2 linked regions of the Homo sapiens genome follow. The protein of the gene in region 1 purifies or fractionates together with the protein of each later gene. This does not show direct contact. Each region holds a gene or a part of one and is shown in the gene's direction. Other genes may lie near its edges.

Region 1 (3,656 bases):
ACATAGTTCATTTAAAAATTCAGACAATCATGAAAGTATAAATATGGAGTAAAAATTTCTTAAAAATTCACCACTTAGAGATAACCACTAACTCACTGTTTCCTGACATAATGACTTACCTAGATGCTAAACTTTATCTTTACCTTTAGCTCCCTACTGAAAATGTTCTGTAGTGCCCATTCAGACTCAATCTGTGCATGTCCATGGGGCTGCCCTTGTCTTGGTCAGTCCTGCTCAGAACTTTGTAATTATCATAGAGTACACTCAAGCGATATTTATTACATCTGCTACATTTCATTGTTCAATACAGTTGATTACTTTCTTCTATCAGTAATAATCAATGAGGATGGGTAGCCACCATTATGATCACTAACAAACCCAGCTTGAAAGTTATCACTGTAGTGTACTACTTTTATAGGAATATACCCAGTTCATCAAGAGTGTTGAGGGTAGAAAATGTCAGACCCACAAATCAAATTTTTGGGAACCCCTACCCACTTTCAGGTCTGCTTGCCTTCAGATTTAGTATTCAAAAGCTTTTCTGTACATCTCATAAAGCACATTTTTCCTGCTTGAAAATCTTCTAGATTTCCTATTGCCTCCAGCCATGGTCATCCGTTATTAGTATATACATACTATTAGCGCAGGAGTCCCCAACCCCTGTGCTAGGGACTAGTACCAGTCTGTGGCTTGTTAGGAACCAGGCCACACAGCAGGAGGTGAGTGGTAAGTGAAACTTCATCTGTATTTATAGGTGCTCCCCATCGCTCACTATTACCACCTGAGCTCTGTCTCCTGTCCAGATCAGCAGCAGCATTAGATTCTCCTAGGAGCATGAACCCTGTTGTGAGCTGTGCATGCAAGGGATCCAGGTTGTGCTCTCCTTATGAGAAGCTAATGTATAATGCCTGATGATCTGTTACTGTCTCCCATCACCCCCAGATGGGACTGTCTAGTTGCAGGAAAACAAGCTCAGGGCTCCCACTGATTCTAGATTATGGTGAGTTGTATAATTATTTCATTATATATTACAGTATAGTAATAATAGAAATAAAGTGCACAATAAATGTAATTCGCTTGAATCATCCCCAAATCATCCCCTGTCCCTGGTCCATGGAAAAATTGTCTTCCACCAAACTGGTCCCTGGTGCCAAAAAGGTTGGGGACTGCTGCATTAGTGGGATGCAGGATTTTTGTAACTGGACATCCACAGAATGCCTTATTTTCATTATGGTTGGCTACTGGGTTTGGGGTGGGGTGGAGCTTCCCCTCTGATGATTAAACTTCTCTTTTTTTCTATATAGCTTCTGCGTCATGGTATTGGTCTGTCTACAAGTTCTGATAGTGAAATGATTACCCAGTTACTGGCGTATACCCCTCCTCAGGAACAAGATGACACCCCAGACTGGGTAGCCAGGTAAGCAGAGAACTGGACTAAACTTAGAGCTCTAGTAAGGAGAGTTTTGCCTTGCATATGTTTATAACTGAAGTTATTCATTCAATTATTTAATTAATTCCAGGATTAAAAACTTGATGAAGGAAGCACCCACAGCATACTCCCTGCTTATAATGCACAGAGATGTTATTTATGCAGTACGAGATCCTTATGGAAATCGTCCCTTATGCATTGGTCGTCTTATTCCAGTGTCTGATATAAATGACAAAGGTAATAAACTTTAGAAGGAATATCATTTCATAGTGTTTTTCCATTATTGTCCTACTGCTATCAAGCCCTGAAATCTTTAGGTATAGAAAGTTGATGGGTGGGAGGGAGCTAGGTAAGAAAAATAAAAATAAATGTATTCTTCCTTTTTAAAGTACGTTTCTTTGAGTACTCCTGAGGATGAGTCCCCCCCCTTTTTTTTTTTTTTTTTTTTTTTTTTTTGGAGACCGAGTTTCACTCTTGTTGCCCAGGCTGCTGGAGTGCAGTGGTGCGATCTCAGCTCACTGCAACCTCCACCTCCCAGGTTCAAGTGATTCTCCTACCTCAGCCTCCCGAGTAGCTGGGATTACAGGCGCACACCACCATACCCAGCTAATTTTGTATTTTTAGTAGAGACAGGGTTTCTCCATGTTGGTCAGGCTGGTCTCAAACTCCTGACCTCAGGTGATCTGCCCACCTTAGCCTCCCAAAGTGCTGGGATTACAGGCGTGAGCCACCACGCCTGGCTGGATGAATCCCTTTTAATGTTTTTAATAGAGATTCCTATTTTTTCCTGTCTTAATTGGCTATTCATGTCCTTTGCCTAGCTTTTTCATTTCTGCAGTATGATTTTAGTGGTTTCTTTTCACTTTTATCAAGATATCTTTTTCTAGCCATGAAATCATAATGTTAGAAGGAATCTTAGAAGATCATTTATTTTATCTTTGGCTCAAGTCAAATGAGGATCCATGTGCTCTTAAAGTCATAGAAATGGCTATTCTATGAGTTTTATTTACTTATTTATTTAGTGTTAGCTGTTCCATTGAAATAGCCTCTTAAAATTTCTGGAATCCATTAATTGAATTGATTTGTGATTTACAGAGAAAAAAACATCAGAAACAGAAGGATGGGTGGTGTCTTCAGAATCTTGTAGCTTCTTATCTATTGGTGCAAGGTAAGTTTTACCTTGTTTGACATATTTTATTTTCCCATGTTGAAAAGAATTTTTTTTAGACAGTTTCTTATTTATGTGAAAGTTTGAAAGTTTTCTTTTTGATGTCTGCAAGAAAATATTTATAAATGGTTTTTCTTATGCATGTTATGCTCAGCAGTTGCACTGAGTTTAATGTTCTAGTAATAGCTTCTAATTCTGAAGCTGGCATTCTTTCAAGATACTATGAAACTTATTTTCTTTATTTTGTATATTTTTCTCTTTTTACAGTACAATATGAAAATAGAGACTTATTTTAGAAAGGAAGAACTTCCTCAATGAGAGATAGTTATGACAGAAAAATGTAAGCCAGGAGAAAATGTTTTCTTTATACTTTATTCTTTTAAAATTCAATACAACTTAGGGCCCTTAATTTTTTAATTCTATACTAGAACTTAGTGTTTACAGAGAGATTATAAAGAAATCATTGCAGGAGACATACCACTTTAAAAAGTCACTTCTAGATTTTATATTGAATGAATCAATTGTTTCTCTAAGGGAAGGTACTCTGTGTGCTTTATAATTAATATTTTCATCAGCCTTAAGGACTAGTTTATTAAAAGTCTTCTTTCTTTAACATTGTTTCCCAAGATATTACCGTGAAGTCTTGCCTGGAGAAATTGTGGAAATATCCAGACACAATGTCCAAACTCTTGATATTATATCAAGGTCTGAAGGAAACCCAGTGGCTTTTTGTATCTTTGAATATGTTTATTTTGCAAGACCAGACAGTATGTTCGAAGGTAAGTAGATTTCTTTTCTTTGAACATTCATATAAATGTTTTAGCTATCTCCTTGAAACATGGCAATTCTTGCCTCAAAGGCTTACCTGGCTCTTTGAAGGCATATAGTTATATGTTGTGGATATAGGACTGAGCCCACAAGTCATAAGATCACTATTTTTCACTTCCTTTTGACTCTTGGATTTTGTTTTTTGTTAGGAGTAAGGATTATGATTTTCTAGATCTATATGAAGGTCGATTTTTTTTTTAAAACCACACAGTTGAGTTCCCCAGTTTGTGT
Region 2 (3,369 bases), on another chromosome or scaffold:
CATCAGGAACGTGCTTAATGCTTCTGAATTGCACACAAAAATGGCAAGTTTAATATTATGTGTACTTTATCACAATGAAAAAAGCTGCTGCGTGGGCCAAGTTACTTGTGCAGGTAAGTGTTCTGCAGGTCGTTGCCTGCACCTCAGTTGTAGGGTGTCCGTAGGATGTGAGGCCAGTCCCCGGGCTTAATGATGCTTTAAATCCTGCCTAGTATTCAATTATTTCTTGTCGCTTAAAAGGCCTAATAAAATTATGGTTTTAGTTTACAGTGGTATGAATGCTTAGCTGTTGGATTTTAGTAGGAAAGTTTGTCCCTTTTTGTTTTTAATTTTGTTTTACAGATTCACAGGAATTTTTTTTTTTTTTTTTTTAATGCACAGAAAGTTTCCCTGGACACACTACCCAGTTTCCCCCAGTGATAATATCTTGGGTAACATCCTGTATACATTCACATTGGTGCATTCCTCAGAGTTGTCAGATTTTGCTAGTTTTACGTGCACTTGTGTATGTGTGTATTTGCAATTTTAGCACGTGTAGACTCTTGTAACCACTACAATCAAGTTACAGAACTACACTACCAAGGTTCATCTTTTTAAAATCTTTGATGTTACCTTTTTCGGAACAGTGACCATGAGAGGACTTTCCTCCCAAAATTTTGAGAACTACTGAACCAGAATATAGTCTGACACTAATAGGTAGAAATTTAACCAAAGGAGATTATGAAGCTCTGCACTTCAGTTAACAAATCACTTCTCAGCTTCCAGTTCCATCTCAGAAGGAAGGAAAGGGATTAAAATCCAGAGACCAGAAATGGGAGCAAAGTACAAGGTGGTGTAATCATTACAGAGGTTTCCTGATGTTTCCAAGTCAGTCGTGTGTTGAGCTGCTAAACTCTAAAGTAATTTTAGGTGGAAGTGTTGGAAACATGCTGCTGAGGTGATAGAAAGGAATCCATGGTCCTCTGTTAGTTGGAAAGTATATGGAATACTATATTCTACATAAGATACAACACTCTCTGTGAGACAAGGATAAAGTAGATTTTGTCAGTGAAATTGTGACAAGAATCGCTGATGGGTTTAGAGCCTAAGTTTGCGAGGAGCACTGGAAGAAATTAAGATTGTTGAGATTGGAAAGGGTTAGCTATGGGGGGAACAGGAGGAGGTGACTCCATGACAGACCAAATATTCAAAGGACTGTGTAGAAGAGGAAAAAGACTTTGTTAGGGCTCCAGAGGACAGAGCCAGGAGTCAGACAGGGCCTTGAACTCAACCCACCGAGATCTGCAAACTTTGCAGGATGCACCAGATGTCTTGTAGCCATGGGTCAAGGGGGGACCCTGGGTAAGAGACTGTAATAGATGACCTCTAAGGCCATCTCATGACATGTGTGATTAATGTATGTACCTGTCCTCTCTTTTTGACAATTCTACAGATTATTCAGGACAGGGAGTTGACCAACTGCAAAGAGTGATTGACACCATCAAAACCAACCCTGACGACAGAAGAATCATCATGTGCGCTTGGAATCCAAGAGGTTGAAAGAACCCCGTCGTCTTCATTTATACTAACCATACTCTTAGAGGGAAGCAATCTGGTTTTGTGCAGAGGCACCTGAGGGAGGCAGGACCCTGGGAACTTCCCCCAGCCACATGGTTGATTGTGTGACGTTGGGCAAGTCACATTTTGCTGCACTTTCACCTTCAGATCATGAGGTTGGGCCCAGAGGATTTTTTTTTTTTTTTTTTTTTTTTGAGACAGAGTTTTGCTCTGTTGCCCAGGCTGGAATGCAACGGCGTGATCTTGGCTCACTGTAACCTCTGCCTCCTGGGTTCGAGTGATTCTCCTGCCTCAGCCTCCCAAGTAGCTGGGATTACAGGCATGTGCCACCATGCCCGGCTAATTTTGTATTTTTAGTAGAGACGGGGTTTCACCATGTTGGTCAGGCTGGTCTTGAACTCCTGACCTCAGATGATCTGCCTGCCTCAGCCTCCCAACCAGATGATCTTAATTTGTGTATTTATACTCATTCTTACACCAAAAAGGGTTTTAAATTGCCTAGAAACTACATGTAAGATGTTAACATTTTAAATGGAAGCAGATGAAGTTCCAGCTCGCTGCCACCTCACTAACATTTTTAACAATTATATTGTAAAATTCAACTCTACCAGGGTGTAGAGCCAGGTGTGGTGGCTCACACCTGTAATTCCAACAACTCCAGAGGCCAAGGCGAGAGGATCATTTGAACCCAGGAATTTGAGGCTGTAGTGAGTCATGATCACGCCATTGCACTCCAGCCTGGGCAACAGAGTGAGACCCTGAATATTTAAAAACAACAACAACAACAAAACTCTATCAGGATATCATAAGTACTTAGAGTGAAATACTTGCATCTGTAATAGAGACTTATTTTTTTTTTTTTTTTGAGACACAGTCTCACCCTGTTGCCCAGGCTGGAGTGCAGTGGTGTGATCTCCGCTCACGGCAACCTCCATCTCCCAGGTTCAAGTGAGTTCCCATTCCTCAGCCCCAGAGCTGGGACCACAGGCGCGCGAATTTTTGTATTTTTAGCAGAGACGGGGTTTCACTATGTTGGCCAGGCTAGTCTCGAACTCAAGTTGGCCTCAAGTGATCTGCCCACCCTGGCGTCCCAGTGTTGGGATTTCAGGCATGAGCCACTGTGCCTGGCCATGTAATAGAGACTTTTAATATAGGAGGGTGTACCAGAAGCACCAGTTTCCTGTGGCAAACAGAATTATTCCTGCTGTATTTGTAATCTGGTGCCACGAGGTAGCCCAGATCCCTTCAGCTCTGATGGAAGAGCATTGCTTCAGCCGTAAATGGACACCTGCAGAAACCTTGCACCGATGGATAGTCTCCCTCAGCTCCGTGCCATCGCTGCAGAGGCTGTTATGGACATCACTGCAGCCCAGTGGCTCTCTCTCCTGGTCTCCACCATATGAGTTGGCTTCTGTTTCTCTCCTGTTTTACTTTGCCTTTAGCTGTGGTCTTTCAAACCACCATCCCTCCTTATCTTCCTCTGCTGGTTCCTCAGATCTTCCTCTGATGGCGCTGCCTCCATGCCATGCCCTCTGCCAGTTCTATGTGGTGAACAGTGAGCTGTCCTGCCAGCTGTACCAGAGATCGGGAGACATGGGCCTCGGTGTGCCTTTCAACATCGCCAGCTACGCCCTGCTCACGTACATGATTGCGCACATCACGGGCCTGAAGGTGGGCTGTCTCGGGAAGGGTGACTTGCCAGCCTACCACACTGAGCTCTTCAGTTCTTTAATATGGGAAAACAAATTGCAGAGTTTAGTCTCTGATTAGCTTTTAAATTTGATATGTGTAAGTAAGAAATGAACCAGCTTT

Evidence for each region. Proteins that work in one complex are often made in the same cells at the same time.
Region 2: the proteins of PPAT (region 1) and TYMS fractionate together in Homo sapiens (co-fractionation; one large-scale study listed by BioGRID). This does not show direct contact.

The regions. Positions count from the first base shown.
Region 1 is NC_000004.12:56,401,050-56,404,705, reverse strand, and holds part of PPAT (amidophosphoribosyltransferase), read left to right. Parts: intron 1-1,304; coding exon 1,305-1,417; intron 1,418-1,520; coding exon 1,521-1,666; intron 1,667-2,524; coding exon 2,525-2,597; intron 2,598-3,224; coding exon 3,225-3,376; intron 3,377-3,656. UniProt on the Homo sapiens protein: Catalyzes the formation of phosphoribosylamine from phosphoribosylpyrophosphate (PRPP) and glutamine.
Region 2 is NC_000018.10:667,640-671,008, forward strand, and holds part of TYMS (thymidylate synthase), read left to right. Parts: exon of another isoform or gene 1-40; coding exon of another isoform or gene 41-113; intron 114-1,432; coding exon 1,433-1,534; intron 1,535-2,678; exon of another isoform or gene 2,679-3,052; coding exon 3,053-3,228; exon of another isoform or gene 3,229-3,369. UniProt on the Homo sapiens protein: Catalyzes the reductive methylation of 2'-deoxyuridine 5'-monophosphate (dUMP) to thymidine 5'-monophosphate (dTMP), using the cosubstrate, 5,10- methylenetetrahydrofolate (CH2H4folate) as a 1-carbon donor and reductant and contributes to the de novo mitochondrial thymidylate biosynthesis pathway.